3 linked regions of the Homo sapiens genome follow. The protein of the gene in region 3 purifies or fractionates together with the protein of the main gene of each other region. This does not show direct contact. Each region holds a gene or a part of one and is shown on either strand. Other genes may lie near its edges.

Region 1 (3,657 bases), on a different chromosome or scaffold from region 3:
GGCCAGGTGCAGCAAGAGGAAGAGTCCTGTCAGTCCAGCAGATCTGAAGGGGATGACTGGTGGGATGAGGAGCAGTTGCTGAGTTTAGGCAGCACTCAGCCAGGGCAACCTCCTCTGTCTTAGCACCATTTCTCCTTTCCTCTTGCCTCTTTCTTCTCTTTCTACTCTTGATTCCTCTTGGATCTCAGGATTTCTCTCCTGTACCTTAACTGATCATAATATAAAATTGAAAAGGAATCAGTAAACACTGGTTAAAATTTTATGTTTAATCTTCTGAATTTTTAAAAAAGAAGCCAAGGTGAACTTTTCTCTTTTAATCCCTCAAAGATTCCTAGTATTGGACATAATAAAACAAAGTGGTATTAGTCTAGACATCCTGTTATATGAGAAGCCTGGATGAATATCTTTTTCTTGCCCAATGTCTTAATATTCAAGGTCACTATTTTCTCTGCTGCTCTCTTTCTGACAAGACAGCCAAGGGTCTTGATTAGGATGAGAAACCAAAGAACAAAAAGATCAAGCCAGTTAAAGTGCATGTTATTAGAAATGTTGCCAGTGACCTTAAAGAGCAACATCCTTTTCTGTTTTCCTGGTATAAGCACAAATTTTATCATCAGCTCTGAAAAGCTTACAAAATCAGTAAGAACAAGAAAGCAGACCTAGTCGAGGGAACTGTGTGTGTGAGAGCACAGCTCATGATTTCTGCACAGGATCTCCAGTGATGGGGTGTGTCTGTTCAGTCTGCCATATGTCCATCCTCCCATGGGGTTCCCCATAGGGATAAAACCACACATTTGCAAGACACCTGGCTGAGAAGCAGCTCTGAACCAGGGTTTTAATTTGGGAACTACTTACTGGTCCATAATGAGACTAAATACAGGGTCTTGGCCTAATTTGTATCAGACTCTTAAATATTGCAGTTGTTTATGCAGCGGAATGCTGTGATAAAACGGCTACAACAAGCAGCATTCACCAATTACACCACATGCAGCACCACAATAATCAACTACACCGTAAGCAGCACCACAATAAACGCTACTTATATCTAATTAACAACAAGATGCCCGAAGTTTACAATGAAAAGCAAACTAAAATATTAAGAAACTCTATCCAAATGCATTTTATTCAGCTGAGCTCTTTACATCTTTTTCCTCCTCTTTTATTGTTAAATTTAATTAAGATACTGAATTCTTAAGAAGGAAGAGGCCAGAAGGAGAGACTGTAAAATTTACAAAAATGTTTGGAGGGTGTTAAGTGGATTCCGATAGACACTATGGGGTATTCCTGTGAGGTAGGCACTGGGGAGATGCCTGAAGAGAAAGTTACAGGGGCAGTCCAGATTCCCTCAATGTGCAGAGGGAGAGAGGAGAAAATATTCTTACAAAAGATTGCACAAATCTAAGTCCACCATTCCTGGAAAGCCAAATGCCTTCTTAATTCAAAATTTCAGGTGAGAACCAAAGAGATGGATTCTATTACCCTGCTTTTGTTATCTTCTAACCAAATGTCTCCAGTGCCATGATCCATTTTTGCTTTAAACCACCCTTTCTTATCCTGCTTAAATTTTTCTGAACATTTCTGTGGAAGGCATGTCAAAGTCAATACTGCTGAGGTTTGTTTAAGGTTAGTGTGTGTGACAGACCAATCTGATCAGTCTCTGGGATTCAATCCTTACTACCTCCTCTTCTGCCTCTTCCTGGTACTGTTCATCAACATTGTCCTCCTGCTGGTCTGGATTTCCTGCCATCTGTTGGAAACAAAAGGGCAGGTTCATGTTACTGTACATCAGAGATGCCTTTTACACAGTACTCTGGGACAAAGAACAAGCATGCCACCATGAAAAGGGCACTTTCAAAGCGTCTGTGGCCAGGAAATGATGAGTAATCATTCCCAATACAAAGCCCAGGATGTCCGTTACCCTCTCTCTCAGAGTACAGGCATATCATGTCATAAAGTGGCCTAAAAACCACCGAAGTGGCAAACCTTCCGTCAATGTGGAATATGACTAACCTTTTACATAAACCAGATGTTTCTTAAAATAGCCCAGTTAAATCCACCCTTCCTCGTGGCATCTGCTTACCACCAAATGTTCCTCCACTTCTGTATTCTCTTGCTTTTGATTACTTTGTTTTTGCTCTTCATTTTCATCTGGCAAATTTTCTTCTCTCACTTGCTCGGCTTCTTCAAATTCATCCTCACCTTGATTATTAGGGTCATCTGCTGGGTTTATATCTTCTACAGCTGCCCTCTGTAAAATTTTAATAAAAAGCAACTATCACTTCAAAACTGAGGATCAAGTTTAATTTCATTTGAAAAGGCTGCCCACTGGCAGAAAATGAAATTGTCCTTCCCTCAATTGTTCAGATCTATCCTTGCCAAGACTCACAAGAATCAAGCATCACACTGTCAAAAGAGAAAACTCCTGCTTTACTTGTCAGAGGCTTGATGAATCAGAATGAGGTTCAAATAGCACTTCTTTCCTGCAAGTGATTTCAAAATAGTTCTCAAAACTCTACTGACACAAGTAATGTGAACAGAACTGAATAAACAAGAAAATAATTAATAAAAGTCAGAGGACCAAGTGACAAAAAAAATACTAATTTAGGTGGGGGATTTAGATGGGCAATTAACTCTTTTTGCTATGTTGATTTTTATAGTAACTTCCCTGTGCAAGCAATTTTTAACATGTCAGCAGGTGAAAAGTTGTTGATGGGAAAGAAGGCCCATACCAGAAAGGACCCATAAAAAGGATACGAAAAGGAGACAAGAAAAAGGCTAATTCAAAAGGAAATGGTCATTTTCTAGTATGGATCCAATTTCTTTATTAACAATCATTCCCATGAAACAGAGAGATGCTGAACTGGCGAGGGATGGGAGTTAAAAAGGGCTGAGCTACCCAACTGCCCAATAGGGCAATATATTATGAAAAATGTCCTCCCAACTCATCTCCCAAATTACTGTGCTCAACAAAGGCCCTTCATATTATCAACTTTAGAATTATTTCAATTTTCCACTTAAGCTCCCAAAGCACCTTCCAAATAATACACATCCTAATAAAGATTTAGATTTTAGAGCCTGAGATGGAGAGGAACAGTGATGCTTGTCATGAGCTTCCCCAATCACTCGCAGGTCATCAATAGGACACTTACTAAGCTGTAAATGCTTCTAAGAGACAGTAAAGCCACAGAGTAGGATTTGGTCTCTATCAGTATTCTCCAGACAAGATTCTACTTCAATTCACTTAGGAGTCTTGAACATGTTTGAGAGTTCACTGCCATCTCAGCTGATCTATTATCTGCACATCCCTGGCCATGAATGTTACTCCAGTGCAAATGACACTATTCTTGGGAACGTAGAGACTACCAAATTACCACCTTCACACTAAACTCTAATTACTCCACAATCTCTTGTCATATGGATTTTCTTTAGTGCACTATCAAAAATTTGTATGGAATTACAGGAAAAATGTAACATATTCTTTTCAGAAAAAAGTACCAAATATCTTTTGCAAACGTTCATAAAATTGACTAGCTCAACTCCGACCACGTAACAGGTATGAATTAGCAGGCACAGTTGTTACGTTCAAATAAAACAGAAAGAGAGGAACAAGTGGGATTAACCATTTCTAATTAAAAGGAAGAATGGTACAAAGGCCAA
Region 2 (3,657 bases), on a different chromosome or scaffold from region 3:
AGAAAAAGAGAGTCTTTGGAGATAACTGTGAGTGAGAAAGTCATTGGAGGGTTTTGAGCAAAAGAGCGTATGATATAACTTGCATTTTTAAAGGATCACTCTAGCTACTGTATAGAAAACAAACAGGGAGGTTGGGGGATGCCTCTAGTAGGGAGATCAGTCAGAGACCATTATATCAATTCAGGCAAGGAGATAGAGACTTTGACCTGGGTGGTAATAGTGGAGATAGGGAGAAATGAACAGATTTTTGACATATTTTTTTAAAGTCAAAGAAGCAGAACTTGTTGGCAAATGCAATAATGCAATATGAAAGGAGTCAAGGATCAGTCTTAAGTTTTTGGCCCAAGTAACTGGAAGAATAAAATTGCCTTTTAGATGAAATTGCCACAAGAATGAGTATTGATAGAAAAGAAAAGAGACTGAAGAACTAAACCTTGAGACACATTAGCAATTAGAAATCAGAGAGATAAGAAGGACCCAAATGGAAGCTGAAAAGCACTAGCCAATGAGATAGGAAGAAAACTAGAAGAGTGTGATATCCCAGAAGCCAGGTGAAAAATGTTGCAAGACACGAGGTGGATCAAATGGTGGAGTAAAATGAAAACTGTTAATTGACCATTGGAGTTAACAATGTGGAGGTCATTGGTGACCTTGACAAGGAATAGTTCATTGGGGTCATTAGGGCATAAGTTCGATAGAAATGAGTTCAAAAGAGAATGTGAAGAAAAGGATTACCGCTAAGAATAGACAACTCTTTGGAGGACTTTTGCTGTGAAAAGGAAAAGGAAAGTGGCATGGTAGCTGGAAGAGGACTTGAGGTCAAGAGAAGGATTTTTTTTAGATGAGGAAAATTATGCCATGTTTGTATGCTGAGAATTGAATTGTGTGGTGAGGATTATCCAGCTGAGAAGGAAAATTTGATGGTATAAGGGAGAGACGGGAGAACTGGTAGAATTACATCTTTAAGCAAGAAAGTGGGGATGGGATCTCATGCACAGAAGGAGGATTTAGCCTTAGGGACATAGGCAGCCTAAGAAAACAGCAAGAAGGAAAGCAGATTATGTGGGCACAGATGGAGAAAGGCAGATAAATACAGGAAGAACAGGTTGTAGAAGCTCCTTTCTAATTGCTTCTGCACTAGGAAGCAAAGTTAGTTTTAACTGAGGATGGGGAAGAGATATTAGAAGTTTATAAAGAGGAAAAAGTATGAAATAGTTATCTGGAAGAGGAAAATGGTAAATTAACTGTGGAATTGATTGAAGGACAGCTCCAAAGGTACACTTAAATTTAGAAAGAATCCATTCATCTTGAATGCGTATTTTTCCGAGCTCCACATTCGGTTGCTGGGTTGTAGACATGAAAGAGGGTAAAAGGTGGATATAACCAAGAGTGGAATTTTGTCAGATGAATACAATGTGAGAGAGGGGCAAAGGAGTGACTGTATGATGGATCATGAAATTTATGCTTAGTTAGGAGGGAGGTGAGGCTTCGGAAGTGGAACAGAGAGCTGTGAAAGATGTTAAGATTAATTAACTATAAGGTCCTCTGGAGTAAAAATTATTAAAGTATTAAAGAGAGTAAGCTTAAAAGATAAGAGGTAGCGATCAGAAAGTCAGAGTAAGATGCTGAAATGCTTTAAACCGGAATAAGGGTACTTACTAGTTTGTTTAGTGGCTATATTAATTATTTTAATTGATTGATTTGTTAGGTTCATGATTACAAAGAAGGAACCCCAGAAGAGAAGACCTACTACATAGAATTATGGGATGTTGGAGGCTCTGTGGGCAGTGCCAGCAGCGTGAAAAGCACAAGAGCAGTATTCTACAACTCCGTAAATGGTAAAACATTTTTAAATTTCTATCTTATATTAATGGTCTAAGAGTATAGATCATCTGATATGTAATGCCATAGCATGCCAGACTCATCTTAATTTGAGAAAGATATAATGTACTCACAACCCTTGATTTAAATCTGCATAGTACATTCCAGTTTGCGTTTCTACATTGTAACCATCTAATTCAGAACATTAAACATTAAGTGTTTCTATTTATATTATTGTCATAAACTAAATATTGAGAAATAAAATCATATTTTTGGTACTTGACATAAAACATGGAACTTAAAATGTTGTCCTCTGGGGTTGCTCTGTCTCCAGTGAGTTGAGTAAGTACAGTAGGACCATAGGAGTCCCATAGTCTTAAGCCAGATAACACAGAGATAGAGGGATTTCTTTCATCTGCCCCTTAGAAAGAGCCCTAAGGCTCTTTCTCAGCTAGTTATAAAGAGCTGCTTAAGGGGGTCTTTATGGGTGCAGAAATTTTATCCAGTTATAGATATTCAAATACCTGGAGCAGACTTCCAGATGGAGCTGTGTAATATACGACATAATTTCCTTTCATAGAGTACCTACTCTGTGTCAAGAGACTAAACTGCTTATACCTGTGATTTGCCAATAGAGTTTCTTTCTTAGTCTTTTTAAAAATTCATTTTTAAAACCTGTTTTTACTGTGAAACATAATTTCAACTTCTGTTTGATTAATATACCAAAGGATTTGGCATTTCCCTCCTGGTAAATGCATAGCCATTAATAGACTTCATTTATGCTGTGCTTAGATCTCACTCAATATTAGGTAAGCATTGCATTTATTCAGTATGTTCATTCCTTATATTCCTCTTCTGATGTCTTCCCAGATCATGAGGTGTTGTAGACTCTACAAAAAGATGTAGAGAAGGTTCTTTTCATTGGATACATATTATAGAATACAGAATGAGATGTGTCAGTTCAGACCCATATCCTATTTAGCTCAGAATTCTATCTGAAAATGTCACAGTCTTAATAAAGAAACAAAGCATTCATAAATGAGACAAAAATAGTTATAAGATGACCTTGATATATGCCATCATCATGCAAAAAGGTATATACAATGGTATATATGAATAGAATGCATATAAATAAGAAAAACAACAATAAGACTAAGTATAGTGTGAGGTGACCTCTTAGAGAAGGAAGTGAAACCTAGTTTAGACTTATACTAGAGTGATCAACTTGTATCAGTAAAATTACTTGTCAAATTAAGATATCTATCTGATCTGGCACAGAGAAGTCTGAATATATAACACCTTTGATATTTAGGTATTTTTGAGACAGAGGTACAATAAAAATTATGAATAAATAATAGAGATAAATACCACTCAAATCCTAGAAGCTATGGAATTCTGAGTTGTAAACTTGTAAGTGCTGAAGAAGAAATCCATCTAATCTATATTTGTTTATCTTTTCTGTACCTACTATTCATTAGTGATTTGTCTCCTTTAATATTATTGAAAGAATTGCATATATCCTATGTTGATTTTGCAGATAAGACTGAAATATATTTCCATTTCTTAAAAGTAAAAAAAAAAAACTGCATTTATTGAAAAACCTATTTCTGTGTTCTTTCACCTTAGCTCTGGAACATTCTTCCTGGTAGAAGCACTCAAAGTTCTTTATTCCATCTACTATCCTTAGTTTCCTAAGAAACTGAACATAAGGATCACTCTATCCAAATGCACAGTCCATATTCTTAGCGATAACTTTCTTCCCTTAATACCCTACATTCTTCCCTCTCTAATAGCCTAGGCTAGTAATCCTTCAGAAGGAAATAATGAAGTGTCTTT
Region 3 (3,657 bases):
ATATCTCTAAATCCCCCTAATTGCTTGATACTGTCATATTTACCTTAAGACAATTTGAACAGGCCAAATTGGCATCCTGTTATTTGAATATGTATTTGCCTGATTACTAGTGAGTATGAAAATTTTTTCATGTTTTTATTGGCCAATTGGGTCTCTCTTCCTTTCAACTGCCTATTCATATCCTTTGATCAGATAGGATTAGGGTTATTGACCTTTTATTTGACTTGTACATTACAATTATATGTGTGTGTATGTTTATATAGTGTGTGTATGTTTATACATAGCTAGATATACACATTTATATATAAATGTTGTTCATAGGGCCTTTTGTTAAAATAAATTTTTCAACTTTAATACAGTAAAATTTGTCAAACATTTATCCTTTCTGGTGTGAGTTTTTTGTGTCTTGTACTATAGAAGAAAACTTTCCTGGTTCTTATGTCACATATATTCTTCTAATAGTTTTAGATTTTTGTTTTTTACCTTTCATTATTTAAAATTTATTTGTGTTGGTTTGTGTCCTCTGAAACAAAAATAATTATTTGTATATGGTGTGAGGTAGACATCAGCTTATGTTTTTAACCAGCTCACAAGTATTAGTACTGCTACTAGTGTAGAATTTACTATGATAAAATTACACATCAGAAAGAAAAAGGTTTTAAACCTTTACATTCAAATCTTGGCTTTTGCTATTTGTAATAATAAAAAATTGGAAACAATATCTAACCATAGGGAACAGATAAATTGTTTATTCATAATGAAATACCATATTTCTGAAAAGGATACATCTCATAAATATCAGTATTAATAAAAAAAATTTTAAACATCTATTGCCCTTTTCTCCCCAACACAGTCAAACTTCTTGAAAAGGCTGAATGTGACCTCTTTTTTTTCCTGACCACCTAAATCTCAAACAACTTAAACCTTATTGTCATTACTTCATAAGAAAGTAAAGACAGTTAACAGTGCAAAATCTAATAGCTATTTTTTAGTCTTCATTTTCTAAGCAACCTAAGCTTCCTGGGCTAAGTCATCCTCCCACCTCAGCTTCCCAAGTAGCGGGGACCACAGGTGCATGTTTACCACATTCAGCTAATTTTTGTATTTTTTGTAGAGCGGGGGTCTTGCCATGTTGCCCAGGCTGGTCTTGAACTCCTGGGCTCAAGTCATCTACTCACCTCGGCCTCCTAAAGTGCTGGGATTACAGGTGTGAGTTGCTGGGCCCAGTCGCCTTCTCCTTTTTATTTTTATTTCTTTTTAGACAGAGTCTCGCCCTATCTATCGCCCAGGCTGGAGTGCAGTGGCGCGATCTCGGCTCACTGCAACCTCCACCTCCCGGGTTCAAGCAATTCTCCTGCCTCAGCCTCCCAAGTAGCTGGGATTACAGGCACACAGCATCATGCCCAGGTAATTTTGTATTTTTAGTAGAGACAGGGTTTCACCATGTTGGCCAGGCTGGTCTCAAACTCCTGACCTCAGGTGATCCACCTACCTCATCCTCCCAAAGTGGTGGGATTACAGGCATGAGCCACCATGCCCGGCTGCCTTCTCCTTTTTAATAGGCTGTTATCACTTGGCTTCTATGAACATTACTGCTTTCATTTTTCACCTACACCTCTGACCAATGTTGAACAGTCTCTATCTGATCACTAAATTTTGGAGTTACTCAAAACTTGGTCCTCAGCTGTCTTTTCTTCTCACTCTATACTTTCTATCCTGGCAAGTTTCATCATATCTGTGGCTTCAGTTATTACCTAATATGCAAAAGCCTCAACAAATTATAGCTCCAAATCCACATATGTAACTCGAACCTTTATAAATCTACATGGACGTTTCAAAGACACTCAACTAAGTAGGTTTAAAACCAAATTCATAACATTTCCCATGAGCCTTGTCTACTACCTACTAAATCCTTAGTGTTCACAATCTCAGTAGGTGGCACCACCTTCCCACCAAGTATGTAAGTCTGAGAAATAGGCATTGTTCTTTACACCCTATTCTTCCCCTTTATTTAATCTAACAATTGTCCACTTTGTGTTTCTTGAATCTGTTCATTTGTCTTAATCTCCATTGACACCTCTATAATTTAAGATGTATACCATCTCTTATGCGAACTACTGCAATGCAGGAATAGGTCACCCCTATATACTCTAACCCTTCTCTGATCCATTTCTTGCCATGTAGCCAGAGTATTACTTGCTTTTCTTTTTTCAAAAGAAAATCTGAACATCTTACCCCTTGTATAAAACTCTCCAGTGCCTTCTGTGAAGCATTCACTGTCTTTAAAGTCAAAAGACACGTTTGCAACAACACGGATGTTCCTGAAGCCTGGTATGCTAAGTGAAATAAGCCAGGTGCAGAAACACAAATACTGCATGATTTCACTCCTATGTGGAACTTAAGAAAGTTGACCCCACTGAATTAGAAGCAGAATGGTGGTAACCAGAGGCTGGGGTAGTTCCACAGCGGGGGGCAATTGTAGAGATACTGATCAAAGCATTCATATTAGAGTTAGATAGAAGGAATAAGTTCAAGAGCTCTGTTGTACAGCATGGTGACTCTAGTTAATGATGATATATTGTATTCTTGAAAACTGCTAAAAGGGTAGATGTTCAAATTTCTCATCACAAAAATGATAACTATGTGTAAGGTAATGCATTTGTTACTTAGCTAGATTTGAGCATTTCACAATGTATATAAACTGAAGAACATCATGTACACAATGAATACATAAAATCGTATATTAAAAAATAAATTTAAAAATGAAGTCACAGCTGGAAAAAAAAAACTCTCCAGTGCCTTTTCACCTACTAATCTAGACTAAAATCCTTAATGTGACTAACAAGGTCTTTTATAGACTAGCCTCTGCCTTCTTTTCTAAACCTGTCTCATAGCACTCCCCTTTACTTTGTAACATCTCACATCACTGGCCCCTTCTTTTATTCAAGTATCCCACTGCTATAAGACCTTTGTAGGCTCAATTCCTCTCTGCAGAATGTACTTGCAACCTATCTTCCACTCTCTCCTAACATTCCATTTCAAGCATCACTTCCTCAGGGACTATGCAGGTGAAGTCAGAAACGAAAACTTTTACTTCAGTTTGTAATTACATAGCTTTGTCTACGACTATTTGAATTAATGTCTGTCTCTGTCACTTCACCACAATTCCATGACAGCAGGACGGGGCATCTCCAACACCCATCAGAGTCTTATGCACTTAGTAAGGACTCAAATGTTTGCTGAATAAATTATTTAGAATTATCATTTCAAGGGTAAATGCAATATGCACTACAGCCACTAGAGGATGCCCTGCTTCTGTTTTTGTTCCTCCAGAACAAGATGTGAAGACTGAAAATACTTTAAAAAAAAAAAAACTAAACCTTTTATGATAAAGTAATTTACTATTAATGTAAATAAAATTGCAGTTATTACAAAATATCAGCATTCACTAACTACTTATTTTAATTAGTTTAATTGCTTAATACTAAATATTACTTAATACTTCTCTTTAAAGAAAATCACAATTTATTCAGATTTATTGAAAAAGAAATACCTCCAAAACAAACACATAACTATTAAAATTTTAAAAAGATATATGCATGTACCAATACAAGTTATCTAGTTTATCTGTGGATGTTTACCACACACTGAAAAACA

Evidence for each region.
Region 1: the proteins of PIGN (region 3) and GOLIM4 purify together in Homo sapiens (affinity purification with mass spectrometry; one large-scale study listed by BioGRID and IntAct). This does not show direct contact.
Region 2: the proteins of PIGN (region 3) and RABL3 purify together in Homo sapiens (affinity purification with mass spectrometry; one large-scale study listed by BioGRID and IntAct). This does not show direct contact.

What each region holds. Positions count from the first base shown.
Region 1 is NC_000003.12:168,022,848-168,026,504, forward strand, and holds part of GOLIM4 (Golgi integral membrane protein 4), read right to left. Parts: intron 2,249-3,657; coding exon 2,081-2,248; intron 1,748-2,080; coding exon 1,679-1,747; intron 1-1,678. UniProt on the Homo sapiens protein: Plays a role in endosome to Golgi protein trafficking; mediates protein transport along the late endosome-bypass pathway from the early endosome to the Golgi.
Region 2 is NC_000003.12:120,707,961-120,711,617, reverse strand, and holds part of RABL3 (rab-like protein 3), read left to right. Parts: intron 1-1,708; coding exon 1,709-1,838; intron 1,839-3,657. UniProt on the Homo sapiens protein: Required for KRAS signaling regulation and modulation of cell proliferation. Regulator of KRAS prenylation, and probably prenylation of other small GTPases. Required for lymphocyte development and function. Not required for myeloid cell development.
Region 3 is NC_000018.10:62,180,483-62,184,139, forward strand, and holds part of PIGN (GPI ethanolamine phosphate transferase 1), read right to left. Parts: intron 1-3,657.